7 separate regions of the Homo sapiens genome follow, and regions 1, 2, 3, 4, 6 and 7 are each linked to region 5. The links come from fine-mapping of genetic effects on gene expression. A gene starts in region 5. Each other region holds a variant in brackets. All regions are shown on one strand. Distances are between the middles of the regions.

Region 1 (4,488 bases), 460 kb before region 5:
TTCAGTTCCCACCTATGAGTGAGAACATGCAGTGTTTGGTCTTTTGACTTTGCAATAGTTTGCTGAGAATGATGGTTTCCAGCTTCAACCATGTCCCTACAAAGGACACGAACTCATCATTTTTTATGGCTGCATAGTATTCCATGGTGTATATGTGCCACATTTTCTTAATCCAGTCTATCATTGTTGGACATTTGGCTTGGTTCCAAGTCTTCGCTATTGTGAATAGTGCCGCAATAAACATACGTGTGCATGTGTCTTTATAGCAGCATGATTTATAATCCTTTGGGTATATACCTGGTAATGGGATGGCTAGGTCAAATGGTATTTCTAGTTCTAGATCCCTGAGGAATCGCCACACTGACTTCCACAATGGTTGAACTAGTTTACAGTCCCACCAACAGTGTAAAAGTGTTCCTATTTCTCCACATCCTCTCCAGCACCTGTTGTTTCCTGACTTTTTAATGATCACCATTCTAACTGGTGTGAGATGGTGTCTCATTGTGGCTTTGATTTGCATTTCTCTGATAGCCAGTGATGATGAGCATTTTTTCATGTGTCTTTTGGCTGCATAAATGTCTTCTTTTGAGAAGTGTCTGTTCATATCCTTCGCCCACTTTTTGATGGGGCTGTTTGTTTTTTTTCTTGTAGATTTGTTTGAGTTCATTGTAGATTCTGGATATTAGTCCTTTGTCAGATGAGTAGATTGCAAAAATTTTCTTCCATTTTGTAGTTTGCCTGTTCACTCTGATGGTAGTTTCTTTTGCTGTGCAGAAGCTCTTTAGTTTAATTAGATCCCATTTGTCAATTTTGGCTTTCGTTGCTTTAGACATGAAGTCCTTGCCCATATTCACCCAATACAGGAGCACCCAGATTCATAAAGCAAGTCCTTAGAGACCTACGAAAAGACTTAGACTCCCAAACAATAATAACGGGAGACTTTAACACCCCACTGTCAACATTAGACAGATCAACGAGACATAAAGTTAACAAGGATATCCAGGAATTGAACTCAGCTCTGCACCAAGCAGACCTAATAGACATCTACAGAACTCTCCACCCCAAATCAAGAGAATATACATTCTTCTCAGCACCACACCGCACTTATTCCAAAATTGACCACTTAGTTGGAAGTAAAGCACTCCTCAGCAAATGTAAAAGAACAGAAGTTATAACAAACTGTCTTTCAGACCACAGTGCAATCAAACTGGAACTCAGGATTAAGAAACTCACTCAAAACTGCTCAACTACATGGAAACTGAACAACCTGCTCCTGAATGACTACTGGGTACATAATGAAATGAAGGCAGAAATAAAGATGTTCTTTGAAACCAAGGAGAACAAAGACACAACATACCAGAATCTCTGGGACACATTCAAAGCAGTGTGTAGAGGGAAATTTATAGCACTAAATGCCCACAAGAGAAAGCAGGAAAGATCTGAAATTGACACCCTAACATCACAATGAAAAGAACTAGAGACACAAGAGCAAACACATTCAAAAGCTAGCAGAAGGCAAGAAATAACTAAGATCAGAGCAGAACTGAAGGAAATAGAGACACAAAAAACCCTTCAAAAAATTAATGAATCCTGGAGCTGGTTTTTTGAAAGGATCAACAAAATTGATAGACCGCTAGCAAGACTAATAAAGAAGAAAGAGAAGAATCAAATAGATGCAATAAAAAATGATAAAGGGGATATCACCACCAGTCCCACAGAAATACAAACTACCATTAGAGAATACTATAAACACCTCTACGCAAATAAACTAGAAAATCTAGAAGAAATGGATAAATTCCTCGACACATACACCCTCCCAAGACTAAACCAGGAAGAAGTGGAATCTCTGAATAGACCAAAAACAGGCTCTGAAATTGAGGCAATAATTAATAGCTTACCAACCAAAAAAAGTCCAGAACCAGATGGATTCACAGCCGAATTCTACCAGAGGTAGAAGGAGGAGCTGGTACCATTCCTTCTGAAACTATTCCAATCAATAGAAAAAGAGGGACTCCTCCCTAACTCATTTTATGAGGCCAGCATCATCCTGATACCAAAGCCTGGCAGAGACACAACAAAAAAAGAGAATTTTAGACCAATATCCCTGATGAACATTGATGCAGAAATCCTCAATAAAATACTGGCAAACCGAATCCACCAGCACATCAAGAAGCTTATCCACCGTGATCAAGTGGGCTTCTTTCTTTCTGCTTCCTTCCTTCCTTCCTTCCCCTCTTTCTCTCTCTCTTTCTTTTTTTCCTTTTTGAGACAGAGTCTAGTTCTGTCACCCAGGCTGGACCTCAGTGGCATGATCTCGGCTCACTGCAACCTCCGCCTCCCAGGTTCAAGCAATTCTAGTGCCTCAGCCTCCCAAGTAGCTGGGACTACAGGCGCGCGCCACTATGCCTGGCTAATTTTAGTTTATTTTGTACTTTTTAGTAGAGATGGAGTTTTGCCATGTTGGTCAGGTTGGTCTAGCACTCCTGACCTCAGGTGATCCTCCCGCCTTGGCCTCCCAAAAGTGCTGGGATTACAGGTGTGAGCCACCACACCCGGTCCTTTTTTT[CTTTTT/C]TTTTTTTTAAGTTTCAACTTATATTTTGGGTTCAGTGGGTACATGTGCAGGTTTGAGTGATGCTGAAGTTTGGTGTACAAGTGACCCAGGTAGTGAGCACAGTACTTGGTAGTTAGTTTCTCAACCCCCTCCCTCCCCACCAGTATTCCCCAGTGTCTGCTCTTCCCATCTTGATGTCTGTGAGTACTCTTATGTTTATCTTCCACTCATAAGTGAGAACATGTGGTATTTGGCTTTTTCTGTTAATTCGTTTAGGATGACGGCCTCCAGCTGCATCCATGTAGCTGCAAAGAACATGATTTCATTCTTTTTTTTTTTTTATGGCATAGCCTGTTTCTCAATCCATTATGTCCTGCCCTGCCTCAGTCTCTAAAACTCCTTCCTAGGCCCGAAAGGTTTCCTATTCCCCTGTTTGGAGGTCCTCTCCCTCATCTGCAATCCACTGCCTTTAGAACTCCAGCAACATTCATGTAGGGGTCGACTCATGTTTTTTCCTGCATGATTACCTAGCAGTTCATGTTTTATGGTGTGACTCCTATGCAGTGCTGCATCTGTGGCTGGGAGCATGGCTTGGATGCGTTTTGCATTTTCGTGGTCCTGCCATAGCACCATGAGTGATCATGGCTGTCATCAACCTCTCGAATGAATGACTGCGTGTATGGATAAGTGAAACTCTCAAGGATGAATTATCTAAAAAGTAAAATTTCAGAAAAAAGTTGGTTATTTTTCCCACCAGTTATTATCAGCATTTTTTTCCCCAACCTTTTCACACTGTCTTCATCTGCTGGGGCTGCCGTAAAAGAATACCATAGACTAGGCAGCTTAAGCAACGGAAATTAACGTTCTTAATGGTTCTGAAAGCTGAAGCCCAAGATGATGGTGTCGGCCAGGTCAGTTTCTTTCTGAGGCCTTTTCTCTTGGCGCGTGGGTGCTGCCATCTTGTCATGTGCTACATGAACTCTCCTTTGTGTATGCATGAAGACAGAGCAGGACCAGACTCCATGGCATCATTTGTTTGTTTGTTTGTCTGTTTGATTTTGAGACATAGTCTCCCTCTGTTGCTCAGGCTGGAGCGCAGTGGCGTGATCATAGCTCACTGCAGCCTCAACTTCCAGGGCCCAAGTCATCCTCTTAGCTCAGCCTGCCAAGTAGTTGGGACCGCAGACACAGGGTGCCATACCTGGCTAATTTTTCAGTATTTTGTAGAGGCAGGGTCTCAATGTGTTGCTCAGGCTGGTCTCAAACTCCTGGGCTCAAGCAGTCCTCCTGCCTTGGCCTCCCAAAGTGCTGGGATTACAGGTGTGAGTCACCGTTCCTGGCCTGTGGGGTCATCTTTAATAAGGACACTAATCCACTGGATAAGCTGCCTCAACTCCATGACCTCATTTTGCCGTAAGTACTTCCTTAGGGTTTTGGACTTGCTTGGGCCCTGCCATCCTTTCCTTGTTGCCTCTTTCTCTCTCTTGGAAAGGGACGTCTACTCCATGCTTGGCTCACTGTTATATTTTGGGAACATGGAACTTGTTTGGGTTCCGTGGTTCACGGCTGGAGGGGAGAGCTCAGCTTCAGGGTGGGCAAATTGCACCCCGAGTCCCACCCATTCCTGATTCAGGTGAAGTTTTGTTGAGGCTCAGGACTTCACACCTTAGTGCTGATGCTGGAATGAGCTAAGACTTCTGGGGCTGTTGGGATGGGATGAGTGCATTTGCCATGCAAGAAGGATGTGAATTTGGGGGAGGTCAGGGACAGGATGTTCTCAACTGAATGTCTGTGGCAGCATCACCTTGTTGGCTCAGAGTGAGTGAGCTCACTCTCCGGTGTCACCTCTTACAAGAACACTAATCCCATCAGATCAGGACCCCACTCTCATGGCCTCACTTAACCTGAACTACTTCCTTAGAGGCCCCATCTCCAAA
Region 2 (4,488 bases), 540 kb before region 5:
ATGATTATTCAAAGCATAGAGTTTTATTAATTACTATCCCCATCATTTTGTTCATCTTACTGAATTCACTGAGAAGGACCAAGGGCAAACTCCTTTAGGCTATCTGTACTCAGGAAATAATGCAACTTTTGCTGAAGGATTCAGCGTTTGAGACATCCTCGAAATGGGCTTCTGGTCCTGAAGTTTTGCCATAGATTTAGACTGGAAAGTGCAGAATTTTTCAAGTATATCCTTCAAGAACATTACTATGCATCCCGTGACTGTGTGAGTAAGGGTATCTTTTTCAGCTTGGTTGCTTCTTTTTAACTCAGAGCTGATTTAGCCATATCTAAATTGCTGGGCCTCATTCTGCTAATACATAATCTTCATCTTCTAAGGCAGTTCTGCAAACTGACCTTGAGGGAAGCTTCAAGCAAACTTCATTTGCTTATTTGAGGGTGCTTTTTATTATTATCCCTGTGCAAGATCTCTCTCTCTCTTTCTTTTGGTGCAAGAAATTCTGATGATTTCTTTTCAAAATTTGCATGATTGGTTTTTAAATGTCCATCAGGAACAATGCAGGGACAGCTTAGGGGTTGCATGCAGGCAAGGTACCAAGATTTAGGCTCATTTGCATCTGCAAAATAATGAAAACCAGATTCCCAATAAGCATGTAAATGGAGGCTGAAATATTTAGTCAGGCTGCACCGGCCGTGGTGTGGCAGGTGCCACCTGGGATCGGAAGCAGACAGGTGTCTCTCGGGCTTGGCTATTATCTGTGCCACTCAATGATGTCAGGTGGATCTGAATTTCTCTAATTGCGTTTTCTAAAATTCACTGTGTTCACACTTAGGATTGGACATTCCTGTTTTTATTTATGTTGACATGTTCCCAGATGGACACATGATTGAAAATCAGCACTGGGAGACTGGCTGCTGAGGGTGACATGCCAGTGCCCAGGGAGGGCAAAACCTGCTCCGTTGACGGTGGCTTGGGGAGGGCGTGGTTGCATTTGTACTCCATATTTCCTTGTGCTGCGCAAGCTTAAATAAGCCCTTCAGTAGGTGCTGGACAAAGAGCGGGGATGGCCTAAGGAAAACGCGCAGAAAAAGAGTGCAGGAGCCACTTGGCAAACAGGTGAAAATCCTCTCCTTTCTGGGGCAGAGGTTTTCTCCGTTTCCCCCACATATCTGCCTGATTCTGCCACAGGCAGGCCCTTCAGAGAGCTCTCCCACTCCAGCAAGGGAGGCTGACTCAAAGACCTGGTGTTCTGCAGGCCCAGCATGAGGCTGGCGGTGATTCGGAAACCCACCCCCCCGCTTCCCGCTGTTCCTGTGAAAGGCCAGGAGTCGCCTCCTGTCAGTGTGTCCTTCACAAAACCCTCCCAAGACCACTCCCGGGGCTTTCTAGGGCACCTCGCAGCTGCCAAGGGACTCTTCATCCTTGCAGCTGGCTGTGTGCCAGGCAGCCCGGGCAGGCCCCAGGTAACGTGGGGAAGTAGAGGCTTGGGGAGGCTCGGGTCTCTGAGGACATCTGGGCTGTGGGGAATCCTGGTGCGAAGCCGGCCCAGTACTCGCGGAGTAACCTGGCAGCCTCTGGAGGGTGTGGAGGGCCCGGGGCCCTGGGTTCCGAAGACCCGCTCTGGCCACGTGACCTTGGCGCCCCCCGCCCCTCCTCGCCCACCTGGCTCTTCCTCAGCATCGCCTCCTGTGGGCGGCCAGGTGGGCAGGTGGGCAGGTGGGCGGCCAGGTGGGCAGGTGGGGCCTCTTGGGTGAGCCCAACACTAGTGATTCTGTTTTCAGAACTCCTTCAGACACCGCTGTGAAAACAGCACCATCACACAATCACGAATTCACATCAGGACCTGGCCTATTGCTATATGCAGAGAGATGCTGAAACCTTTCATTTTTTCTTTTTAAAATCGTAGGACTTTGCCCATTAAATCCTAAATTGCCACTAGCCAACATGGATGAAGTCTGCGAGGGATGGCACCGCCGGGCACACCTGTGTCTGGCCTGGTGGTGGGAAGGAGGTGGAGGGCCCCCGGGAAGGGGGTTCTTACCGCTGAGGAGAGGCCGGTTGTGCCGGTAGGAGGCGGGCAGCTGGCCGACACCCTCCATGCGGTGGCTCATGACGCGTGCGAGGTGGCCCGTGTGGTGCAGGCTGCCCACCACGATGCTCTGCAGGTACACGGGCTCCACGAAGTGGGACAGGAGCGCGCCCTGCAGCCCCAGGACGTTCCACCTGTGGGGAGAGCCAGCAGTCAGCGGAGCCCCACCCAGGAGCCCAGGGAGCCTGGTCCTCTCTGTCCGTCTGCGGCCTGGTCCTGAGGACCTGTCAGTCTTCCCATCGTGCGGACCTTGGGGAGCTCCCTGGGAGTGCCCCAGACCCAACCCAGCCATCACTGGGGCTCTGGGGACACTGTTGCCTGGGACTGGGCTCCACAGGCCCATGTGTGCTAACAAATGCT[G/C]CTCTCTTTTCTGAAAATGAGTCGTTAGAGTGGAAACTGTTATGTTCTCTGTGGGACTTAGAATTAGATTTTTTTAAAAAGATACTCTGTCCCAAAAGTGAATCTGAATTTTTCTTTATATTAGCTGGGAAATACTATAAATGGAATTTGTTTATTTTAGTTTAGGGAAAAATACTTAGTACTCCCTTTGTCCTTAGCAGTCAAAATGACCTATTGTGTTGAAATTACATTAACAAATGACCTTGTTTTGGTCTGGGCATGATTTTGGTTTCAGAAGCCCAGATTGGAGATGAACAACAAGGCCATTTTGTTTGAAATAAATATAGCTCTGGGTGAATGTTTTTGCTTCCTCAAGCAAAAATGCCAAGAGCACTGACATTTTTTCCCCTTAAATTTGGGTGGCAAGAGGTTCCATGTGTGTGTTTTTTGAAGCAACATTCTATGGTTTCCACTCTAAATAATGTGCTTAAAATCCTACCTCCTTCAGCAGCAAGCGTTACGTAGCTAATTTCTTACATCATTGTTCTTTTCATTAATTAACATTTCTCCACTGTTAGAGCAATTACTGCCATCCCCGCATGCAGCGTCTCTTTTCATGATTAATAAGGAGTCATTACATTTCCCTTCCCGAAGCAGTCAATTAACACAGGATTCTTTCCATTAATTACCGAATCTACCTGGAGAGTAATCTTCTCCGAGAACCCGTGATACCAATTGCTTTAAAAAGTTCTCTTTAAATTTTATTCCAAAAACACAAGCAATTTAGCCAGCGATATTAATTTGCCTCAGAAGCATCTCCATGAATGAGAAACATCTTTTAATCTCATGCAAGAAAAGGCAGCCATCTGGCTGGTGGGGGTTTCGGGGAGCCGCTCTCCCTCTCTCCCTCTGCAAATGCAGGTCATTAAAGTAATGTGCTCATCTACATAAAACTCAAATGGAATATAAAAGGTAATATTTATATACAAACAATTTAGTCCTACAATTTAAACAGTCATTGATTTTATGAAACATTTACTTCAGTCTATCAGATTTGCATAACTTCATTTAAAAAAATATTGTGGTCATTTCTACAAGTCACGGTGCTTCTCCCAGAAAGCAAGGGAAGGGCTGGCCACTGGATGTGCGAGCTTCTACCAGAGGGGTGAGGTCGGGCGCTCTGAAGGGTAGGATGAGATGGAGGCCACAGAGCGCCTGTCACCGAGGACCTTCATTCCACAGAGTGTCTGCCTGGATCTCGGATGGTCGTAAGCCACAGAGCACCTGTCACTGAGGACCTTCATTCCACAGCATGTCTGCCTGGATGTCGGATGGTCGGAGGACACACAGCGCCTGTCACCGAGGACCTTCATTCCACAGCGTGTCTGCCTGGATCTCGGATGGTGGGAGGACACACAGCGCCTGTCACTGAGGACCTTCATTCCACAGCGTGTCTGCCTGGATCTCGGATGGTGGGAGGACACACAGCGCCTGTCACTGAGGACCCTTCATTCCACAGCGTGTCTGCCTGGATCTCGGATGGTGGGAGGACACACAGCGCCTGTCACCGAGGACCTTCATTCCACAGATTCCACAGTGTGTCTCCCTGGATCTTGGATGGTGGCTCTTCAGAGTCAATCTTTTCCTTGATGTTCACCGATAAGTCAGAGAATGGCAACAAATCCTGGGAAAGGAGATTTTTTGTAACTGAGCTTTTCCTTCAGGGAACAATGGGAAGTGTTTTCTGTTTGTTTGTTTTGTTTTTTTTTCAATAGAGACATGGTTTTGCCATATTGCCCAGGTTGGTCTTGAACTCCTGGGCTCAAGCGATCCTCCCACCTCAGCCTCCTTAAGTGCTGGGATTACAAGTGTGAGCCACTGCACCTGGTCTTTGTGTGTGTGTGTGTTTTTTTTAGACAGGGTCTCACTCTGTCACCCAGGCTGGAGTATGGTGGTGCAAGTGGTGCAGCCATAGCTCACCGCAGCCTAATTATTTTGTATTTTTTCATAGAGGCAGAGTCTTCCTATGTTGCCCAGGCTGGTCTCGAACTCCTGGGCTC
Region 3 (4,488 bases), 120 kb before region 5:
TAGAAATTAAACAATATACTTCTAAATAACCCATGGATCAATAAAGGAAAAACAAGAAAAATAAGAAAAAAATTTAACTGCACTAAAACAAAATTATATTAAAATTTATGGGGTGCAACTAAGACAGTAGAGGGAAATTTATAGCTTTAAACACCTATATCAGAAAGAAAGGAAGATCTCAAATCAATATTCTAAGCTTCCATGTGAATATAGTAGAAAAATAAGAGCAAACTAAAATCAAAGTAAGACATAATAAAGATTAGAGCAAAAATCCATGAAATAGAAAACCAAAAAAATCAACAAATTGACATATTTAGATTGACCGACCAGTAATAAAAGACAGAAGACACAAATTATGAAAATTAGAAATGAAAGAAGAAACATTATCACCAATCTACAAAAATTAAAGGGGTCATAAGCACATGTTATGGGCAACTTTATGGCCCAAATGAGGCAACTTAGATGAGATGGGGGAAATTACTGGAAATGCGCAGATTTCCAAAAATGACTAAAGAGGAAATAAAAAAACTACAAAAATAACAATTAAGAAAATTAAACTAACAATTAGAGATCCCTTTACACAAGAAAAGGCCCAGGCCCAAATGGTGTCACTGGTGAATTTGTTAAATAAAGAAAAAATACTAACAATCTTTTACAAACTGTTCTAGAAAATGCAGAAGGGGAGACGACTCTCCATTCATTCAGTTGTTCTAATATTATATTGATAGCAAGCACAAAAATATCACAAAAAGTATAGCCCAAGATTTCTTATGAATATGGATGTGAAACTATTAACACAACATCACCTAACTGAATCAAGCACCATATGAAAAGGGTGTATGTAAAGACCAAGTTAGATTTACGCCTACAGTGAAAAGTTGGCCTAAAATGTAAAAATCACCTAGTGTAATATACTATATTAATCAAATAAAGATCAGACACCTGATTATCACAATACATGCAGAAAAAAGTATTGGAAAAATCCAGTACTCATTCATGACAAACTCCCTTAACAACTCTGAGTACAATGGAACTTCTGCAAGCTATAAAAGGGCATATATGAATCACTCATGCCCAGCTCCATCCTTAGTCATGAGTGGCTGAGTGCTTTCCTGTAGATCAGGGACAAGGGAAGGATGTCTACTTTCACACTTGAATTCAACAGTATACTGCTGGTCCTTGCAAGTATGAGAACAAAACAAACAAAATAAACAAACATGCCAATCATTCAAGGCATCCAGCATAGGAAATATTAAAATGTATTCATTTGTAGATGACATGAACATCTATGTAGAAAATCTGATAGAATCAACAAAAAATATATTAGAACTAGTAGGTATTTTAGCAAGATTGCAGGACATATGATTAGTATAAACATATCAATCGTCTTTTTATATATTACTAACAATCTGAAAAGAAAAACAAGAACATTGTTACATTTACAAGAGCCTCAAAAATAAATAACTAGGAATAGTTTCTTCTTTTTCTTTTTCTTTCTTTCTTTTTTTTTTTTTGAGACAGGGTCTCACTCTGCCACTTGGGCTGGAGAGCAGTGGCATGATCACAGCTCACTGCAGCCTCGGCCTCCCAGGCTCGAGTGGTTCTCCTGCCTCAGCCTCTGGAATTGCTGGGACAGCAGGCACATGCCACCACATCCAGCTAGTTTTTGTATTACTTGTAGAGATGAGTTTTCACTGTGTTAGGAACACACTTAACAGCAACAACAACAACAGTGAAATGCAAGACTTGTGTACTGAAAACTACAAAACATTACTGAAAGAAATCAAAGGAGA[C/A]CTAAGTAAATAGGGAGAAATTCCATGTTTCTGGATTTAAAGACTCAGTAATGTCAAGATGTCAAGATAACAATTCATCCCAAATTATCCATGGATTCAATGCAATCTCTGCCAAATCTCAAATCCCAGGATTTTTTTTGTAGAGAATGTCAAGCTCCTCTTAAAATATGTATGAAAATAAAATGCAAAGGATCTAATAGTAAAAAACAATTTTGCAAAAAAATAAAGAAAGAAAAAGGTTGGAAAACTTATACTAGCTGATTTCAAAATTTACTACCAAGGTAAGGTAATCTAGATAAATTGAACAGAGTTGAGGGTTCATGAATTAATGCTTACATCCATGGGCAACTAATTCCTCCAAAGGTACTAAGAAATTTCAATGGGGAAAGGATACTCTTTTCAAGAAATGGTTCTGGTTCTACTGTATACTCACATTCAAAGAAATGAATATACACCATTACCTTACACTATACACAAAACGCACAATGAACCACAGACCTAAAGACCCTAGCTAAAATTTTAAAACTCCTAGAAGAAAACAGGAAAAAATCTTTATTAGCTTGAATTTGGCAAATAATTCTTAGACACAACATAAAAGGCACAATTCATTAAGGAAATATCAAAAAGTTGGACTTCATCAACTTTTAAAACTTTGAGCTTCAAAACACATCTTTAATGAAAAAATAAATCTTATACAGGTTGAAAATATTTGCAAGTTATATATCTGATAAAGAACTTTTATCTAGAATATATATATAAAGAATCCTACAACTCAGTAATGACAAGAATCCAGTAAAAAGGAGTAAAATTTTGAACAGTCATGCCACTAAAGAGGACATGTAGAAAACAAAAACTTAAAAAGATGTATACCGTCATTAGTAATTAGGGAAATGTAAATGAAACCACAATGAGATACAGCTATATACCCTCTAGAATAGCTCTAATTAAAAAGACAGAAAATACCAAGTGTTGGATGAACTATGAAAAGAGGCGATTCCTCATGCGTGGCTGCTCAGCATTTAGAATGCAACAGCTACTTTGGAAAATTGTTTGTTTGTTTCTTAAATAGCTAAACATATACCCGCCATATAACAGAGTACTTCAGCACCTAGGCACCCACCTCGGAGGAATGAAAACACGTCCACGCAAAGGCATGTCAGGGAATGCTCACGTGGCTTCATTCATAACAAGCAAGAGCTGATGACACCACAAACGTCCATCAACAGAGAGGGGGAGAAACAACAGGAACTCTATCCAAACCTTAGAATAGCATTCCGTAGGCCAAAGGTGCAAACTACGGACACGCGCCCCAACACAGATGAGCCTCAAAAACATTGTGCTGAGCAGGAGTTGGAAGGAAGACGTGACGTATGGCATGATTCTATTTATACAAAATCTCCAAAAGAGGAAAATATTTAGAGATGGGGCATCCATTAGTGGTTGCCCAGGGCTGGGGGTGGGATTGGATTGTTGCAAAAACATCATTAAATAAATGAAAAAATAAGCTTCCTTCTGCACACACATCCATGAAGCCCACATTCTCAAGAGGACGTGAGGCGCATCCCAGGTGGTCATGCAGCTCAACACTGTAGATGTGTGAAAATGATTGAATTGTGCACGGGCAAAGTCTATTGAATGGAAGCATGTCAGTAATGCTGCAACAAATACATGAACTGCAAACTACAGTAGTTTCTACTGTATAGCTAGAATGGCACTTACTTGATTACACTTGAGTAAGAATATAAACTGTTGTTTTGGGAAAATTTTTGTTAGAAAACTAGATTTCACACAGCCCATAGAATTTTTGTCACTACCCATAGAATTCCATTGTCAGCGCCTACACCCGCCTCTGGCCGCCTTCCCAGGCATGGTCCACCGTGAGCCGTAACTGCTTTGAACTCCTTGTCTGTCCCGTTGTACCGTCATCACCTTCTCTGTCATCAGTGCGATTGCACACGCATGGATTCCCTGCCTTATTGAAGACATTGGAGACCTCCCTCCCGCCTACAGGACCAGGGGCCTTCACCCTCAGGAATGCCCAGTACGAGGGCTGAGTTTGCAGTCAAATAGTTAATGTTCATAGAGCTTATTAGAGACCCACAGCATTTAATCCTCAAACAGCCCCTTCAGTAGGCACTATTATTATCATCATTTGTTCATGGGGCCACTGAGGCACAGCAAGATGAAATGATTTGGCCAAGGTAGCTCAGCTGGTGAAAGAGATTCAGGGTAAGAATCAAGGCTGGTGCAGTGACTCACACGTATGATCTAGCGATTTGGGAGGCTGAGGCGGATCGATCACTTAAGCCCAAGAGTTTGAGACCAGCCTGGGCAACATGGCAAAACCCCATCTCTACTAAAAACATGAAAAATTAGCCTGGCATGGTGGCACGCACCTGTGGTCCCAGCTATTTGGGAGGCTGAGGTGGGGGTATCACCTGAGCCCAGGAGGCTGAGACCCCAGTGGGCTTTGAAGGCATCACTCCACTCCTGCCTGGGTGACAGAGTGAAATCCTGTCTCGGAAAAAACAAAACAAAACAAAACAAAAACAAACAAAAACCAAAGAAAAAAAGAAAGAGAATAAGAATCCAGACTGCCTCCATTTTAAACCACTAAAGACGATTTGGGGTTCTCCTCGTATTATCTGATGCAACTCCAGGCTCCAGCGAGCATGCCGTCCTGCCTGGTCTCCTA
Region 4 (4,248 bases), 490 kb before region 5:
CCATGGGTGATGGATTGTGTTCTGTGGGGCCCTGAGATCACACAGGCAACAGAACAGACATTTTCTCCACAGGAAGTCCTTGCGGCATCCAGCAGTCTTCCTGCCTCTGTGCCTGCACTCTGCCCACAGCCACCATCCCCCACTGCCCCGGCTGCCTCCCCCAGGACCCTTGGCAAATGTATCCCAAGCCTGGGCCCCGGCACAGGGCCTGTCAGCCACGTGGCTGCCCTGGACTCCCCCTCCCCTGTGCTGGTTCCCCATGCAGGGCAGGCGTCGGGTGCACCTGTCTGTGGACCCCCCCAGCTGGTGGCACAGCACCAAGCATGTAACCAGCTCCTGGTAAATATTGGTCCAGTTGCCTTCTCTGACACAAACAAGAGTGAGGGATCTTGGTGATAGTCCCAGTTGAGCAGGTGGACATTTAGGAGAAATCCTTCCCTACATTCTGAGATATTTCTGTTCCCCCATATCCAACTCCTGCTGCACCCCGCAGGCCTCAGGGAACTGAGGGATGGGTTCAACCTGTGGCTCCCTGCTCAGAGGCTCAGATAAGAATGAGCTGAGTGTGGGCTGAGCACAGTGGCTCATGCCTGTAATCTCAGCACTTTGGGAGGCCGAGATAGGGTGACCACTTGAGGTTAGGAGTTTGACAACGTGATGAAACCCCGTCTCTACTAAAAATACAAAAATTAGCCAGGCGTGGTGGTGAACGCCTGTAGACCCAGCTACTCAGGAGGTTGAGGTGGGAGAATTGCTTCAACCCGGGAGGCAGAGGTTGCAGTGGGCCAAGATAATGCCATTGCACTCCAGCCTGGGCGACAGAGCAAGACTCCATCTCAAAAAAAAAGAATGAGCTGAGTGTGTTAAGGTGTTGTTTTCAGCAGCGTCTGCTTAGGGCTACACGTGGGCCTTTCTCCTTTTGTGTGGCTTTTGCACAGCTAATGGGCATGGAGATGACCCTTGCCAAAGCCCCCCAAGGTCCCATTACTCGTAGATTTGAGGAACGCAGATGGCTTCAAGGGATGTGAAAGAGTAGACAGCAGACACAGGAGGGAGCGTTTCAGGAGAGGAGCCCACAGTGAGCCCTTGGGACTGAATGGCCCAGCCTGGGGGTGTGTCGCGGAGGCCACGTGCTGCAAACCACCTGGGTTTTGCTCCTCTCTAAAGTGTCTCAGGGACAGGAGGCTGCCCCATGACAGCCACCAATGCCTGATGGCCAGAGCAGGCCAGGGAACCCTGGGAATCCCAATACTGGGGCACAGTTCTCAAGGCCTCAGCGGCCTCTTCACATGTACTTGGCACAGGAGGCAAGAAGACAGCGCGTCTCCAAGCCACCCCTTGGGCACTGCACTCACGTTCTCTGAGGGCAACGGCGGAAAAGGGGGCAGTGCAGGAATGTGGGGGGCATGGGGAACCGAGGCCAGGAGAGGGTGGCCTTGCCCGGAAGGACGAGGGCTGCAAAGGTGTTTTCTGGAGGGAAACGTGGAGTAAGGAGGAAGCCTGGAATTTTAGCATCTTCCCAGCGCACACGGCGGCTTTATTGGTGTGCCAGGGATGTCTCTAGTCTGAATAAAAAGGGATGCTTTCTGGCTCACCCTGTGCCAGGATAGAGGGAAGCGTGTTCTGAGCCAGGCATGGGGCCCCATCTGCTCCCTGGCAGCCCCCAGCCGCGGCGTCCGCCTTCCCTGGAGCCCGTCCCCAGCCGCTCACCTCAGGTGCAGCTCCAGCTGCGTGTAGAGGAAGTGCAGGAACGCCCGCCGGGCCACGACCTCCGCGTGGCAGTCATTCACCACCAGCCCCTGGTCACTGAGGTGCTCGCCGCTGATGCACTTGGTCCCCGAGGACAGGGCCACGACCTGCGCCTGCCGAGCATCCAGGCCTGGGGACACAGATAGCATCAGAGCAGCGTGGCCCACGGCCCCCGTCTCCCTCCTCCTCGGTCTTTTCAGGGTCTCACAACAGCGGTTTCCCTGGGTTAGGAAACCTTGGAAACACTGCGTTTTGAGAGCTGGGAAGCGAGGCTTCTGTGTGCTCCAGGCTGTCACGGGTGACCGCCCGCCTGAGGGATTCCCATCTACTTCATGGTGGCCTGAGACAGCGCTCAGAGTGCCTCTGCTATCCTTAAGGTTGCTGAAATGCTCCTTAGGCACCATAGGAGCAGAGTTTTGAGGTCAAACTTACTACCAGGACAGTTTTCTCCACCTGAGTCCCAGGTCCCCTGTGAGTGGGAGCAGTGCTAGCTGCGGCCTGGGCTTCCTGCCCAACCTCTAACCACCTTTGTGCTTTCTCCTGTCCTCCAACGGGATCAGGGCAGGACAGGAGCTGATGAACCCTTCACCCTAACACAGAAACAC[AGGACAGGAGCT/A]GATGAACCTGTCATACTAACACAGAAAGGAGGCTGGATGTGTCATTTTAACCATAGTCAAAGGAACCCCATCCACAAAAATGATACTCTCTTCAGGGACTGAAAACAAACAACAAAGAAACCTCAAAAACAACCCCCAACGTAATGTCCTTAAAGTATAATATTCATCACTTTGTTTAAGGAGGAGAAGCTGGAAGACACAAGCCAATGTTTGCTGTGCTCTAACAGGTCTGTGTGGATGTGTATTTTCTCTGCACTTAGATGGTGAATTCCTTGAGGACACGAGTCAGAATTTCCACCAAATACTCCAAGCAAGGGCTCCCTAGGGAGTCCGTGTCATTAGACGGGTCAGTGTTGCCGATCCAATAACAAATCCATCATCCAGGCCCTTCGGCTGGAGGTGGCAGGAATGTTGCGGGTGCCCAGGAGCCTTGGGATGTGACAGCCACTGGCTGGGCCCGGATCGCAGGCCAAGGGAGGGCAGCACGGAGACGCGTTAGCCGCTGACCGCGGCCACGTCCACAGAGTTACCTGTAAATACACGTCCGGACCATTTCTTGGAAGAGGTGACACACAAATTAATGTCACGCCAGAAGCAGGCCTCCCTCCCATCTTAAATAAAATCGACTAATTAATGTCACGCCAGAAGCAGGCTTCCCTCCCATCTTAAATAAAAACAGTGCTGGCTGGTCATGAGCGCTTCTCGCTTCTCACACACTTGTTCCTCTGATGTGACTTTTTCTCCCCTGAGAACTTAGTTCTTGAGCCCTGAGGGCATCTGCCCTCTCTGGGCCTCACCGTGGGATCTTTCTTCGTGAGATAAAAGGGTGGTGTCAGCAGCTACCAGTGACAGCCAGGGAGAATTCGGGGCCGGGAGGGACCGAGCACTGGGGAAGTAACCTGCAGAGGCCCAGCAGCATCCTTGCCCCCATGGCTCTGCAGCTGGGGTCTGTCTGTCCAGCCTCCTTCCTTCCAGGCAAAGCGGTCTAGCACAGCCCCCGCCTCCTGCCCATGTCCACTGCTCTCTCCGCTCATCCCAGCTTCTCCCAGCAGCCCCCGTTTCTGTGCCCGAAGAGAACTCCATGGTCCTGGTCCTGTTGTCTACCCACTGCCCCCTCCCTGGTGGGACGGGACTGCTCCTGAGCTCAGGAAGTGACCAGACTTCCCCACGCCGCTTTAATCAGAACAGGACACGACCAGCCGCCCTGAGGTTCCTCCCCCAGGAAAGCTCGTGAGCAGCTGCCGGGTTCCAGGTCCAGGCCTCCTCCTCTCTCAGCCATCCTGGGTGCGGGGGCTGCCCCCTAGCGGGGGTCCCAGAAGTTGACGAGCAGATGGGACCAGGATCTAAGGCTACAGGGAGCTGGGGTGGGCAGCTGCTACTGACTCTGCCAGGGGTGGGAGCCACCATCTCACTCAGGCCGTCAGTGACATGTGGACTGTTGAGAAATGGTTCACAAGGATGACATCGTGATGCAGAAACCACCCCTCAGGTTCCAGCTTCGTTAAAGCTGGTATTTAGAGAAATGGGAAACACATTGATAACGATTCCTAACCAGTTTCAGTGTTCACGACCGGTGCGCATGCAGTCTCTGGTGGAAACGGACAGCTCTTCAGGAATAGGTGCTGTGGCCTGTGAGGCCCCGGCCTGCTCCTTCTCTTTGGATTCCGTGGAAATTGGAGCTGTAGAAAAAAGCAACTGCTTTCCCTTTACCCCTCATTGATTCCCAGCTCCGTTTGGCTCCAGACTCTGCCACACTCAGCACAATTACGTGGCCCAAGAAGTGTTTGCATATTCAGTTTTCATGATTCTCACCCCCACCGCCAGCACCACGTTCCCAACACAGGAGACGCGAAGCCTGGACCGAGGGAGATGACGCGGTCAG
Region 5 (4,488 bases):
GCTGCCGGCAGGTGCCCTGGGAAATTCTCCCGCACGCCAGAAATCTCTTCGTAACAGAAATCAGTGTACAAAACCTGAATGCCCTTTCCCGCTTCAATTTTTGGCTATGAAAATTAAGGGACTTGACATATTCAAAATAACCAAGGTATGGAAATATTTGCTATAGGAGTTTTATTTTGAATTGCTAAAGTTAAGTTTATAGCAAATGAAGTCTTTCCCCAGATTTCCTTTTTCCCCCTAAATTGAATACTTTCTAAGCTAGCATGACTGACGCTTCCTGGCAAGGCAAGTGAATTTGGAGAAAGGCAACACTTTCCTCCTGTTTATATTTATAAAATGCATTATTGCGAACTATTACTCCACATTCTTCAACTCTAAATATTTAAATAGACTAATCAAAAAATATTGGGAAATGTGAACATTTCAAGTGTAAAGATGATGCTTCCTTTTTCCTCTTTTAAAAGTCATATTCATTATTCAATCCGGTGACTTTCTCAATATCAATGCCACTTTGTGTTGGCATTATCTTTGGAGGACACTAACAGGTCTGTTTCAAAATGATAATTTCAAACAACAAAGTGAATCGCAAGCGCACACTTAGCAGCTGAGAGGTAAATGAGAACCACAACATCACCTCCCTTCTGAAACCAAAGGCTCCAAAACCTTTTGAGGAAGTTGTGGGGGCCAATCCCTCCCAGTGGTCCTGACGTTCGGTCATAATGAATGACTGTTTGCTATTGACATTTATGCCTGCTGACTGTCTGGATAATTTCTATTATTGGAAGAGGCAATAAAGGACCTGGTGACGGTTCGAGGGCACACAGGAAACGGTCTGGTAGAAACTTATCTTAGGCCAATGCAAAGATGAAAATTCTTCAGGAAAGATGGACAACCCCAAACACACCTAACGTTGCCTCCTGCTTTCAAACAACTGGCAAAGCTGATCAATTCTAGCTGTGTTTTTCCAACCGTTCTTTATACTTCTACCTCACTTAAAAAAAATCAGCACATTTCAAATCATGATTAGAACTGAACTTTCTCCTGCAGGCTCACTAGGAACTGACAATAACACAGGTTCCTCTAGGAGAGAAGGGTCGGCATGAGAAGAATCTTTTAATTCTTCCTGGCATGCACACAGGCTACGATGGCACTGGGGGCATTGCTCTCATATTGGAGCGATTGCTAATTTTGCAAAATCCCCAGTGTGAAAGCCCTCCCTTGCTGTAGCATTGACTAACTTCAGCGCGGCCCAGCCCCAGGAATATCAGTAACAAGGCACAGCTGAGTTTGTCAGTGGCCGCTGTCAGCCGGCTGCTTTTCCTGCTTTCCTGGTTTGCGGTTTTTTTCTACCACTAACAAAATATGATGCTTCTTTCTGTTTTCCTGTATTCATTTCTGCTTATTTCTCCAAGGACGAGCCCTGTGTTCTCTTTACGACCCAATGTTTACAAATCGACGGGCACCACATTGAGTAAAAACTGCCAGCCAATTTGGAGAGGCGATCGCAGGGCTTCGCCTATCCCTTCCTCCGGGACAGTTTGGATGGGAGTAGCTGGCGCGAGGGCTCGTTCCCCCGTTTTTGGGTAATTCCTTTGGCACTGGGAGACGAGATGGCCTCCGGAGGGTGGAAGGCAGTGCCAGCCCGGCCGGCCACTGGGGACTGCGGGGCCCGGAGACGCGCGGGGTCCCCGGGGAGCTCCTCGCCGCCCTCGCCCCACTTCGTCCGGGTCCCTCAAACATGTCGCAGCGTGGCTGCTCACTGTCCCCTCTGGGCAAGAGGAGGCCCCAGACATTTCCACGGGATCTGAACTCCCGAGCGCCCTGCACGGAGCAGCCATCCCGCCAGCACCCCAAAGTGAAGCTGCTCACAACGGACAAGCCCGGAGACCCCATGAGAGGCCGGGGTGGAGAAGCCGGGGGTGAAGGGGGGCAGGGGCCGGCGCGCCACGCGGTCCTTACCTTTCCGCTTGGACCTCCGCCTCCTCCTCCTCTTGGACTTGCATTTGAGTTGACTGCTCAGCCCTCCAGACCCTCTGCCGCTCCCCAGGACCGAGGCCATGGCCGAGACCCAGGCGCGGAGCCCAGAGCCGCCTCCCTCCTGCACCTGCACCTGCCTCCTTCCCGGCAGCCGCCGCCGCCGCTGCTGCGAAGCTTGAGGTTGCAAACCCGGGAGCGGCTCACTTTTCAGGACTGAGCAGGAAAGCGCGCTCCGTCTCTCTGTCTCTCGAATTGTTCTCTATGACTTGCTCCCACTGGGCTGGGGGCCTCGGCTGGGCGCCTGGAGCGAGCTGCTCCCTGGTCAGGGAGGGCGGGGAAGGGCGCGCGGCGTCCTGAGTGCTCCGAGCTTCCCGCGGGCTCTGCCTCCTGCTCTGGGCTCCCAGCGCAGGGAGGCTACTTTTGCGCCTCTGCTAGTTGTTTGGCACCAGCCACTTTGAAGCCAATCACGCAGGGAGCTTGTCTATTTGCTGCAGCAGCGTCTAATTAGATCCAATCACAACTGCTTTCTGGCTCTGACATCAGCAGCAGCACCAGCCGCACCGCCGCCTGGCCGCTTGCAAACTCAGCTCCCGTTTGGACGGTGAAGCTCCCAGGACCGGCGGCTGGAGGGAGGCTGCTCCCGGGGAACAAGGACGCGGCGCGGGTGCGTCTGGGAGAGACCGGGGGAGCCTCCAGGAGGGACCCTGCCCGGGAGGACGAGGCCTCCTGCCGCAGCCTCGCGGACAGCTCAGCTCGCCCTGCTCAGAAAGACACAGGGACGGGTTTTTCCAACCAACAGTTTTTAACTAGTCAATTCATTACCATGCTCCTTGTGTCAAGGGGGGGAAATACCTCTTTCAGAAATGCAGAGACCGCACTTCCTCAGAAACGGACTGAGGTTTGCAATTCCCCAGGAGACAGCGTCCTGAGGGGCATTTATTCCTCAGAGCCTGCATGCTTGTCTGTTTGCCTCTTCTTTCCCCTCTTCATATTCCTTGGCCGTTTCCAATGCAAAAGATAAATCTTGCATAAAGACAGAGGTTTTGGGATCTGAGTCTGATTTTTGCCGTCAGGAATTTCATGTGTTGCTTTATTTAGGGAACAATGACACAAAAGGAAGAGAAAGCTCTCAGCGGAGAGTTTTGTTGCCAAATGTAATATTTGGATGGAAGAAAGTAACATTTACAAAGAGGTGGATTGCACACTGAAATAGTTTTAAGCAATTTTTTTTTCCAGGAATGTCCTATGTTTCAAGATTATACTTATGGAACCCTGGAAGTCTTATGTAAAATATAAAGAGGAATAGAATCTGGTAATCATCATTGCATCTTGTATTTAAATCACATAAGCTTTTAATTACAATAGTCATGTTTTTAAAAAAATCCACTCTAAAATTCATTAGCACACATTAACATGTTGATATAAAAATGGCACACAAATATTTCTGCTATTCATTGCCTCACATGCAACCTTTTCAGCTGCTTATGTGCCTAGAAATTTCCAGATAATTTTTATCATAAGAAAAAAGAATCACTCTGGGGGACATTGGAAATAATTAGGATGATCCTGTGTTGTTATGTGCTGAGCTGATAGATCGTAGCTCAGTTTTCATTGATGAGAGAGAGTAAGACATTTGATTTCAAATCTTAACTCTACTGCTATGACCTCGGGTAAGTTAAACCGTGCCTCAGTTTCCTCATCTGTAAACTGGGGATAACAACGTCACCCACCTCATAAGTTCATTCATACTCGTTGAATCAGTATCAACCAGTATAGACAGGAACTGGAACATGTTAATTACTCTATGATTATTTATTAAATTTTTTCCAGCAAATAATTTGGAAGGAATGAGCGTATGTTGCAGACAAGCCTCAGAAAGACAGGGCTTCTGCGTTTTCCTTTTAGAATGTTGAACCTTCTAGTCCAACTCAGACTGAGGACCACAATCAAACCAACATCCCTCTTCAGGGCTGGCTTCAACAACCCTGTTCCCATGACAGCACAGCTCAGCTCTGCTGATAATTCCCAGCGAGGGTTGAGAAGGCACATAGCTCTCTCACTTCCTCTCTGCAATACCCGAGATATTTGAGTGCTTAAACTATATCGAGAAACACAGCTCTAGGACTCTGCCTGTGAAACTTCTGAGCTTCACACAATGTGCTGCACTAATCCAGAGTTGCCCTATTTCTGTATCTGCAGAAAACCCATCAGGGGGTGGAGTCACCGAAGGAAGGTGCTTCAGAAGAGCTTCACACACACACACAGCCCCCACAAGGTGGTCAGCATTTATTAATGGCCCCAATAGCTCCATCATCACACGGAGCAACCGTGCTGTCTGGGAGACTCGTATACATGAACCCTTGTTTCACTCCAAGGGCAGGTATGGTGGCCGGAAAGTAACGTGTCTGTTAAATGTTCTTCTGATGTTGGTGGAGTGGGGAAACAAAACTGAAAACTGTCTTTGAACACTTCATTTAGACCCTAATTTGAAAGTTACGATCGAAATTTTGG
Region 6 (4,488 bases), 150 kb before region 5:
TCTCTAGGACATTCTGGAAAAGGTGAAAATTTGCAGACAATGAAAAGATCAGGGGTTGCCAGGGTTTGGAGGAGGGGGAGGTAAACAAGTGGAGTACATGGGATTTGGGACAGAAAAATCACCCTGTATGGTGCTGTATACTGTAATGGTGGATACATGCCATTGTACATTTGTCTACACCCACAGAATGTACAATACATTCTGCTATGGTGAACCCTAATGTAAACTGTGAACTCTGGGTGGGTGGTGGTGATTGTCAATGTAGGTTCATCGACTACAACAAAAACCCCCTTTGATGGGCAGTGCGGACAGTGGGGGAGGCTGCGACTATACTGGGGACAGGGGCATGGGGTAACTCTGTACTCACCACTCAATTATGCTGTGAACCCCATGAAAGGAAAATAAATCTCAGGATCCCCAAATCGCTAAGCCAAAGGGAAAAGTCGAGTTGGGAACTGCATCGGACAAACCTGTTTTCCATTTGGTTCCTAAATAAGATCGCTACAAAGATAAAAAAAAGCTACATGCTTCCCTCGTGATTTGCCCACAAGGAAATTCCCTGTGGACAAAGGACAGACAGAATTCAAAGTCATCCCCCTGTGCACCTGAGACAAACATATATCTAATTGCTTCCTCTGCCCTATTGCTTATGTAACAATGCAGAGTCACTGAGCCAGACCAAGGCTTACGTGATGATTCCTGCTCTACCCTCCTCTCACATGGGAATTGTGTATTCGGTGAAAAGCTACCTATGACCTGGAAGCCCCTGCTGACCTCAAGTTGTCCTACCTTTCTAGACCAACTGATGTACATTTTACGCAGACTGATATTGATTGATGTCTCAGGTCTCCCTGAAATCTATAAAACCAAACTGTGTCTGGGTGCGGTGTCTCACACCTGTAATCTCAGCACTTTGGGAGGCCAAGGTGGGCAGATCACGAGGTCAGGAGATCGAGACCATCCTGGCTAACACGGTGAAACCCCGTCTCTACTAAAAATACAAAAAACTGGCTGGGTGGGGTGGCGGGCGGCTGTAGTCCCAGCTACTTGGGAGGCTGAGGCAGGAGAATGGTGTGAACCTGGGAGGCGGAGCTTGCAGTGAGCCAAGATAGCGCCACTGCACTCCAGCCTGGGTGACAGAGCGAGACTCCATCTCAAACAAACAAACGAACAAAAAACAAAAAACACCCCAAAACCAAACTGTGACCTGACCACCTTGGGCACACGTCATCAGGACCTACTGAGGCTGTGTCATGGGTGCATCCTTAACCTTGGCAAAATAAATTTTCTAAATTGATTGAGACCTGTCTCAGGTATTTTCTGTTCACAACCCCCAAATTATTAAAGTCTATTAACAACAAACAGCCACAAAAAGTCCAACCCAGTTCTTCTGACCCCAGTCTTTGGCTTTCTACTCCTGCAGCAACTACAAGAATTATGAGGCAGCAAAGGGTATTGGCTGAAGGACCCCGAGTGCTTGATCTGAAAGCCACCAAATCCAGAAGATGAGGCACCTGAGAGCAGCTGGCGGGATGGTCGGGAATGGCTCAGCCCACATTTTCAGATGCATTTGACTTCACTTCCGGAATAGAGTGAAGCCTTTCTTGTGGGAAGATCAATGCAGGCTGGCATTTCAACATGGTGCCAAGGTCAGGATCTCACTTTCCTAAGTGATTACCTGCATCTCTGCCCCGAGGGGATCTGCTCACCTTACTCAATCAGGTGATGGTTAGATCTTTCTCAACACCTTTTTCTTTCAAGTAAATCTCAAGTTGCTTTGCCCAGAAAACAAGGAAAACCGACTCCTTCCTACACAGAGAATAGATTCCTGGATTCTCTGCGATTATTTAATGTCAGTGGAAAAACATTCTCATTACTGTAGCTGGGAAGAAAAAAATGTGTTGCACAAGTGTGATTTCTATTCAGGACGTAGTGTGGGTTTGTGAGTAGCATAAAGAA[A/G]TATATAAAACGCCTCCTTTATTAACTCGTTAAAATATGAAACAATAAACAGAAATGAAATACAATGTAATGAAATCAATATATAAGTTAGGGTTGTTTTTAATTATAACTTAAATTAACCAGGGTATCTCCATTGTGCAAGAATTTATTTCCAAAACTAAAATGAAGTCTATAAACGTGCACTCAATTACACCGGGGAATTGCAAATTTTCTGTCTTCTGGCATTCAAAAGATTTTTGTTTCATTAATGGCTAAAATGATTATAACCGCTTGTATACTCATTTCCTTTACCAAAGGTGCTTATCTCCTTTCCTGAGTACACATAGTTTGAGAGTAAAATTAATTTGTCCCTAAAGAATTATTTTGACCTCAAAAACAAAACAACAAAACAAAACAAAAAGAACAATGATTTCTGACATGAAGGCTCCAGAGATGTAAGTCGGGTTCTGGGCGTCCGGGGGCCCTTTAGAGACCCTCAGGGGTTCCTCCAGCAAAGGGGAACGGCTGAGGTTCCAGTCCTCATCCAGACAGAAGAACTCAGCTTTGTTTTAAATATAGGACTTTCTTGCTTCCCTTGAAAAATGAAAAAATGTTTGAAAATCACTCCTTCAGCAGGGTGTATGATCATGGTGTAGGTTCGGTTTCAGACAGAAGAAGGTGGTTCTGTGTGAATATGGTTATGCATTTGGTCTATTTGTTGTTTTGATTTTTTTTTTCATAAGCACTTACAAAGCAATATAGGTAAGTGTGGGGAGATAGCGTGGGTTCCCGTGAGAAATAATACTGATCTCTTTCTTGTGCCTCAGCTGAACAATTTGAAACCAAGCATTTTATTTTTTTCTGTGCTAAACAATTGATATGGTTTGTTGTGTTCCCACCCAAATCTCATCTTGAATTGTAGCTCCCATAATTCCCACGTGTTGTGGGAGCGACCTGGTGGGAGGTAATTGAATCATGGGGGCGGTTCCCCCTGTACTATTCTCACGGTAGTGAGCCTTATGAGATCTAATGATTTTATAAGGGGTTTCCCCTTTCTCTTGGCTCTCATTCTCTCTTGACTGCCGCCATGTAAGATGTGCCTTTCATCCTCTGCCATGATTGTGAGGCCTCCCTAGTCTCATGGAACTGTGAGTCCATTAAGTGTCTTTTTCTTTATAAATTACCCAGTCTCGGTTGCGTCTTTATCAACAGCTGAAAGCGGACTAATGCAACAATACTATGACAAGGGGAAAATGACTTGGCTCCAGTAAATCTTTGTTTGACCCAATCACAGGCTACACACTGAGGCCACCCTGGCTCAAGGCTCACTTCAAGACCCACCTTGCAGGACAAGCAGTTCTAAGCTCACAGGTCACACCCTCTCCCCAATCCCTCCAGTTGCTGCCCTGAAACACTCACCTTAAAGCTGCCCAGCCCAGGCCTGAAACCCTGAACGTATCTTCCTCTATTCCCATTTTGAGATACCCCGGATGCTATGTCAAGGTGGTTTTTTATCTGCAGCGGGTCCAACAAGCCTGGATTTGGTGATCAACAAAGCCCTTCCTTGGGTTTTTGGAGCATGAGCAACCAATATAAGGAACTTGATAGGCCAAATGATGGGAATTTAATGTGCAGATTGTCTTAAACAGATTCCCCCTTGGTAGACAGAGCTAGGTAGGCCAGACGGTGCTGCTGTTGGGAGGATTTGCTGGTGAACAATCAAACGCAGAAAGATGGCACCAAGAGTCACCCTTCTGCGGCTGGAACATCGCCTGGATGAAGGCAGAGAAAACCTTTCTATGCCTGATACCGAGCTCGGAATTTTGGCCTAAGGAGGAGAAAGTGGGTTCGACAGCCAGAAGTCAGGGAACAAAGGCAGGAAGACAGCCCGACCCTGGATGGACGCCAGCCCCTGCCTTGGGGTTCACACTCAATTCTGGAGGCAATGGGGTGTGGGATCTGCTTTGACACAAATTCATGAGAAAAAGATGTGGAGAGCTTCGCAGATGACAAGATCGATACAGATCAAGACAGAGCTCCTGACAGAGGCAGCATGGCCTCCGATGCTTGGAGGAGTCGGCTTGAGGCCTGGCTGGCTTTGTTCTGATCAGGCCTATCCAGCCCAGAACCACAGCACAGCACCCTCATCCACATTTTAAAAAGCTCCCAAATCTAAAACCCTGTGGCTGGGAGACGTAACCTGAAGCGACCTAAGGCTCTTTGTCTTCTTGTGTACCCCTCTTCCTCTGAATATTCCTGTGTTCTCATGCACAAGTTACTGGCATGGCTCCATCAGTCCACTGGTTATTATTTATGTGCACCGAATTCCTTCCTTTCACATCGGAAAGACCCTGGTTCTGAATTCTGCCACATTTGTGGCGAACAGATGGTGGGCATTTTTAGGACTGATACTTTCATATGGGAACCTACCCACCTTCAGCCTGACCGCCAGCCTCCAGGGGAGAACGTATGGTGGAAAGGTGCGGACCCTGCCACGGTCAGGGCATCCATGGTCGGGGCATCCACGATCAGGGCATCCATGGTAGGGTG
Region 7 (4,488 bases), 470 kb before region 5:
AGAAAACTCCTTTTTTCTAGTTATTAATAAACTCGAAAAATAATTTCCCATAAAGAGGTAATGCATGGTCACCACCGGGCCTTGATGCCTGCTTCCAAAAGGAACCTGGAACTGGGAAGGATAAAGGACCATCAGCTCTACATTTCAGCTCTGCCCCGCCCTCAGGGCATCAGGAAAGCCACTTGGCCTCTTCATCTTCGTGTCTGCATTTCCTGAAGTGTTAATAAGAATTCCTGCCTTCCCCACTTATCGGGGTTATGTCAATCAAACTGATTAGTGTATGTAAAAATGCTGTCAAAATTATAAATCTGCATATTAAATGCAAGGCATCACCATCAACAGCCCCTTTAAGAATCATTCGCTCATGAAACACAAGAGTTTCTAAATAAAGCGGTGCCCTGACAGTTTGGCTAGTAAGTATTGTAGGGGTTCAAGAGGATGGGGGAGAACATTTGCTTCTCTTTTTCCAGTGAAACGAGAGGATTCGGGAGGGAACAACGCTGAACTACTGTGTGATGGAGAGAAGGGGTGAGTGGGACCCATGCCCTCCCAGAAGACGCCCTGAGCGGGGGCCCAGGCTCTCCCGGAAGACGGCCTGAGTCAGGTCCACGCTCTCCCGGAAGACGGCCTGAGAGGGGGGCCCAGGCTCTCCCGGAAGACGGCCTGAGCCAGGTCCACGCTCTCCCGGAAGACGGCCTGAGAGGGGGGCCCAGGCTCTCCCGGAAGACGGCCTGAGCCAGGTCCACGCTCCCCCGGAAGACGGCCTGAGAGGGGGGCCCAGGCTCTCCCGGAAGACGGCCTGAGCCAGGTCCACGCTCCCCCGGAAGACGGCCTGAGAGGGGGGCCCAGGGTCCCCCGGAAGACGGCCTGAGCCAGGTCCACGCTCCCCCGGAAGACGGCCTGAGAGGGGGGCCCAGGGTCCCCCGGAAGACGGCCTGAGCCAGGTCCACGCTCCCCCGGAAGACGGCCTGAGAGGGGGGCCCAGACTCTCCCGGAAGACGGCCTGAGTCAGGTCCACGCTCCCCCGGAAGACGGCCTGAGAGGGGGGCCCAGGGTCCCCCGGAAGACGGCCTGAGCCAGGTCCACGCTCCCCCGGAAGACGGCCTGAGAGGGGGCCCAGGCTCTCCCGGAAGACGGCCTGAGCCAGGTCCACGCTCTCCCGGAAGACACGGTCCACGCCCTCTGAGAAGATGGCGTGTGGGTCGGCGCCGAGAAGGAGTGGTGAGAATGAGAACAAAGCTTCCCAGTGGAAGAGAGAGCAGCTGTCTTCGAGGTCAGGCCTGGGAGGGCCCAGCCTCGTGCCTGTAGGTCCGGTGCAACAGCGCATGTGCTCCTGGCATAGGGCTCACTGGATTATTTTAAGTAAATGGCTGTGGTAGTTGGCCAAGCATCCTGCTCTCTGGGGAGAATGCCTGAGGGTGGAAGCATTTGTTCAGCATGAAAGATGGAGTCCCACCCTACAGGGAGGAAAGGACCGCCTGAGAAGGGTCCAGGGCCGGCTGGGACCCCACCTCATTGGCGCTGTGGTGGGGGGTGGGGGGGGGGCCGTGCCCACAAATCCTAAGGAGACCTGAGCTGATGGAAATGGGCCCTGGGCCGCCTTCCCATCTGGGCGGGAGCCTGTGGGAGAAGGACCAGCCGGCCACCACCGCAGAAGACACCAGGCCAACGCCTACAATACCAGTCTAACGTCTCGTTCACAAGTGTGTGTATTCAGACGAGAGCCATCAGCAGGACACGGGAGAAAGACCACGCGAAACAGAAAGCCACTGCCCCTGGCCTGGAGGACACGGGCCAGGGCGTCTCCTCAGAGGAGTTGAGCAGAAGTTACAGCTACAGAACAAGAGGCTCCCTTGAAAAAGGAAGAATGGAGGATAAGGGAAAGATTTAAATAATGAAAATAGGTTGCAAAAATTAGGAGGGAAAGGCAGTTTATGAGCTGTAGGATAAATTTAAGAAATCTCCAAAAACATCGAGTAAAAGAATGAAGAGACAAATTTTAAAAGTAAAAGCAGAAAATTAATAGAGTGTTGCAAATTTAACAAAAATGCGTGTAAATGAAGGAATTCATAAAACAAATGACATAAAACTATACAAATAGCTTAAATATGTCAAGAGAAGTGAATGGCTCACACCTAAACATATTCTTAAATCCAAGT[TA/T]AAAAAAAAAAAAAAACCTTTCCCCCTCCCGGGTAGGTGTGGGTGCTGGTCACTGCAGAGAAAATGTGAGGCAGGTCAGAAATATTGGATAAAAGATAATGGAAACATTACTTCAAAATACTGAGGGAAAATAATTGAAAGCTTAGAATTCCCCCCTGGGAATCTATTGAGACGGATGACAAGCAAATCAAGGAATTTTGAGATGTGGGAATATTCACAAAGTTGATCTCCCATCGTTTTAGATGATGCTTCTTGAGGAAGCTCTCTATGAGGGGAGACAAAGCAAGGAGGAAGACAATGATTCCGGAGATGGTGTCCCACTGGAAGAGCAGGACGCCGGGTCTGCAGAGCACGTGCCTCGATGGGCCTGGCCTGGGAGTTCTCTGGGAGAGAGGCAGGTACCCTCTGTGAGATGCTTCCATAGAAGCCTCGTGACTTAGCACGTATGGTAAAGGCACAATCTTCCTCTTTCTTTTTTTTCAATAAGAGAAAAAAGAAGACATTCCAGAAAAAAACACGCACAATATTTCAAAAGCGATATAAGCAAGTCTAGCAACACAAGTGAATCAAACTTAAACACAACACAACTTGGAGCTGGGGGTGGAGGCGGAGCCTCTGCGTGTCCTGACGCCAGGCAGCCAGGCTCCCTTCCCAGCGGAACTGTGCTGGGAGGGTTGAAGGTGGTTCTGCTTGGCTCTGTAGTGGGAATATCTGCAACACTCTCATCAGATAGATGCTGTTCAGCTGTTACAATCACTCAAAAGACAAAGTAGAGAAGACTTAATTATGGGCATAAGAAAGGATATAAATACCAGTGATGATGGTGTAAAGATGTAACACGTATAATTGAGAGAGGCTGGCTAGTGGGGAAGGGGCTGAGGGCTGCCACCCTCAACGCACAGAACAGGGAGTGAAACCACACCCAAATTTGATGCAATAAGAAATAAAGGTTTATCTATAATTGCACATTACAAACATAATAATGGAAAATGAAAAAAGTATCAAATGTTAATAGCATGAGTCAATAGATGTTATCTAGAACTGAAAATCTAGAAATATAGAAGTATGTAGTACTTAGAATCACAAGAAAAAAATTTGAAATGGTTAGAGGTGGCTTCTGAGAGTGAAGGGGAGTGAGGGGTGGAGTGGGAGAATACGGCTTTTCATTCAGAAGTTCTTTAGAATCTTTACCATATGACTGCATTAATTTGATAAAAATAAAAACTTCTGTTCATAAGTATATATTTCTGTGATTATATTTCTCATAATGGCTAAGAAATGGTCTCTGATTCATAAACAGAACTTTCAGGAGCTAATAAATGTGAATGAGTTGGCATCCCATCCACAGGAGGGGCAAATCAAATTGTGTTTTATTTCAAAATAAGTTTAATTTTAAAACATTGTGACATATACAGCAACTAGAACAAGACATATTACTCTGAGAATTTCTTAGGTATTTGCTTGAATAACTGAACTAGAATTAAGATCAAATGGCACATCAACTTTAAGTAAATGAGTATCTAAAAATGTTTGTATTAGTAATTTTGCACATTTCTAATTTTTTAAAATCAGTGTTTGTCTCTTTACAATAGGAAAGTAAATTTAAGCAAGTTATTCTTCAGCATTCAGAAGTCACTAATTAGTGAAGCTCTACCTTATGAAGTCTCATTTTCATGTAGTAAATTTAATTCATATAGATAAATTGCCTACACATAAAGCATTGTATTCACTGGCAACTTAGAAGTATCATTTCCCCACAAGCCTCTAAAACATTACTATTTTCCACATGAAGTTTGACAGTAGCTTCCAAAACTTGCCAGATTTGTTTCCCAGAAAGATGGAAAGATATTGAGTTCCAGCGCTGAGAAATGCTACAAACTTACTTTCCAGGTCATACTGACTTATGCCTCTGGGGCTGGAAGTGCATTGCACAATAAGGAAGCCAGGGTGGCTGGTGCCCCTCCCCTCCCCTTTCTACTCCCTCCCCCTACCCTTCCTCCTTTCCTTTTCATACCAAGACACTAATTTAACCTGAGTTATTCAGAAATCTGTAGCAGAAATCTGTGTAACACTCCACATTTTAAAATTTACCAAAGTTTTGTTTATATGGACCAGCAACCCTGTGTGTATGTAATTCTTTTATAGTTCTTTTATATTGGATTTAAATTGTTCTGTATGAACCATTCCCCACTAGAATATAAGAGCCACAAGGGTAGGCATTTGGTCTCTTGTTCTGCTGATTCCCCAGAACTTTGTATGCCAGGCACTGACTAAATAATTTGTAAATAGTGCCATTACCAATAATTAACTAACACTTACATGGTACTT

Evidence for each region. PIP is the estimated chance that this variant, and not a neighbour inherited with it, causes the effect.
Region 1: its variant is fine-mapped to the expression of ADARB2 in whole blood (INTERVAL, PIP above 0.99).
Region 2: its variant is fine-mapped to the expression of ADARB2 in cerebellar hemisphere (GTEx, PIP above 0.99). The same link has a PIP of 0.9 or more in atrial appendage, cerebral cortex and nucleus accumbens.
Region 3: its variant is fine-mapped to the expression of ADARB2 in lung (TOPMed, PIP above 0.99).
Region 4: its variant is fine-mapped to the expression of ADARB2 in putamen (GTEx, PIP above 0.99). The same link has a PIP of 0.9 or more in caudate, hippocampus and hypothalamus.
Region 6: its variant is fine-mapped to the expression of ADARB2 in subcutaneous fat (GTEx, PIP 0.96).
Region 7: its variant is fine-mapped to the expression of ADARB2 in whole blood (INTERVAL, PIP 0.94).

Annotation. Positions count from the first base shown.
Region 1 is chr10:1,275,723-1,280,210 of GRCh38, forward strand. All of the region lies in intron 3 of ADARB2 (adenosine deaminase RNA specific B2 (inactive)), which reads right to left. Among named protein-coding and RNA genes, the nearest start is that of LINC00200, 120 kb to the left of the region's middle. The variant CTTTTT/C (reference allele first, on the strand shown) is at 2,567.
Region 2 is chr10:1,197,925-1,202,412 of GRCh38, forward strand. ADARB2 (adenosine deaminase RNA specific B2 (inactive)) reads right to left here. Exons shown (of 10, transcript NM_018702.4): 8 at 2,042-2,223. Among named protein-coding and RNA genes, the nearest start is that of LINC00200, 40 kb to the left of the region's middle. The variant G/C (reference allele first, on the strand shown) is at 2,450.
Region 3 is chr10:1,619,920-1,624,407 of GRCh38, forward strand. All of the region lies in intron 1 of ADARB2 (adenosine deaminase RNA specific B2 (inactive)), which reads right to left. Among named protein-coding and RNA genes, the nearest start is that of ADARB2-AS1, 96 kb to the left of the region's middle. The variant C/A (reference allele first, on the strand shown) is at 1,794.
Region 4 is chr10:1,240,421-1,244,668 of GRCh38, forward strand. It overlaps ADARB2 (adenosine deaminase RNA specific B2 (inactive)), which reads right to left. Exons shown (of 10, transcript NM_018702.4): 5 at 1,711-1,879. Among named protein-coding and RNA genes, the nearest start is that of LINC00200, 83 kb to the left of the region's middle. RefSeq lists enhancers at 1,190-1,701, 1,702-2,212. The variant AGGACAGGAGCT/A (reference allele first, on the strand shown) is at 2,355.
Region 5 is chr10:1,735,092-1,739,579 of GRCh38, forward strand. It overlaps ADARB2 (adenosine deaminase RNA specific B2 (inactive)), which reads right to left and starts at 2,434. Exons shown (of 10, transcript NM_018702.4): 1 at 1,960-2,434. The coding sequence starts at 2,059. RefSeq lists an enhancer at 1,766-2,362 and a silencer at 2,324-2,383.
Region 6 is chr10:1,584,878-1,589,365 of GRCh38, forward strand. The region is part of intron 1 of ADARB2 (adenosine deaminase RNA specific B2 (inactive)); the gene reads right to left. Among named protein-coding and RNA genes, the nearest start is that of ADARB2-AS1, 60 kb to the left of the region's middle. The variant A/G (reference allele first, on the strand shown) is at 1,960.
Region 7 is chr10:1,264,977-1,269,464 of GRCh38, forward strand. All of the region lies in intron 4 of ADARB2 (adenosine deaminase RNA specific B2 (inactive)), which reads right to left. Among named protein-coding and RNA genes, the nearest start is that of LINC00200, 110 kb to the left of the region's middle. The variant TA/T (reference allele first, on the strand shown) is at 2,160.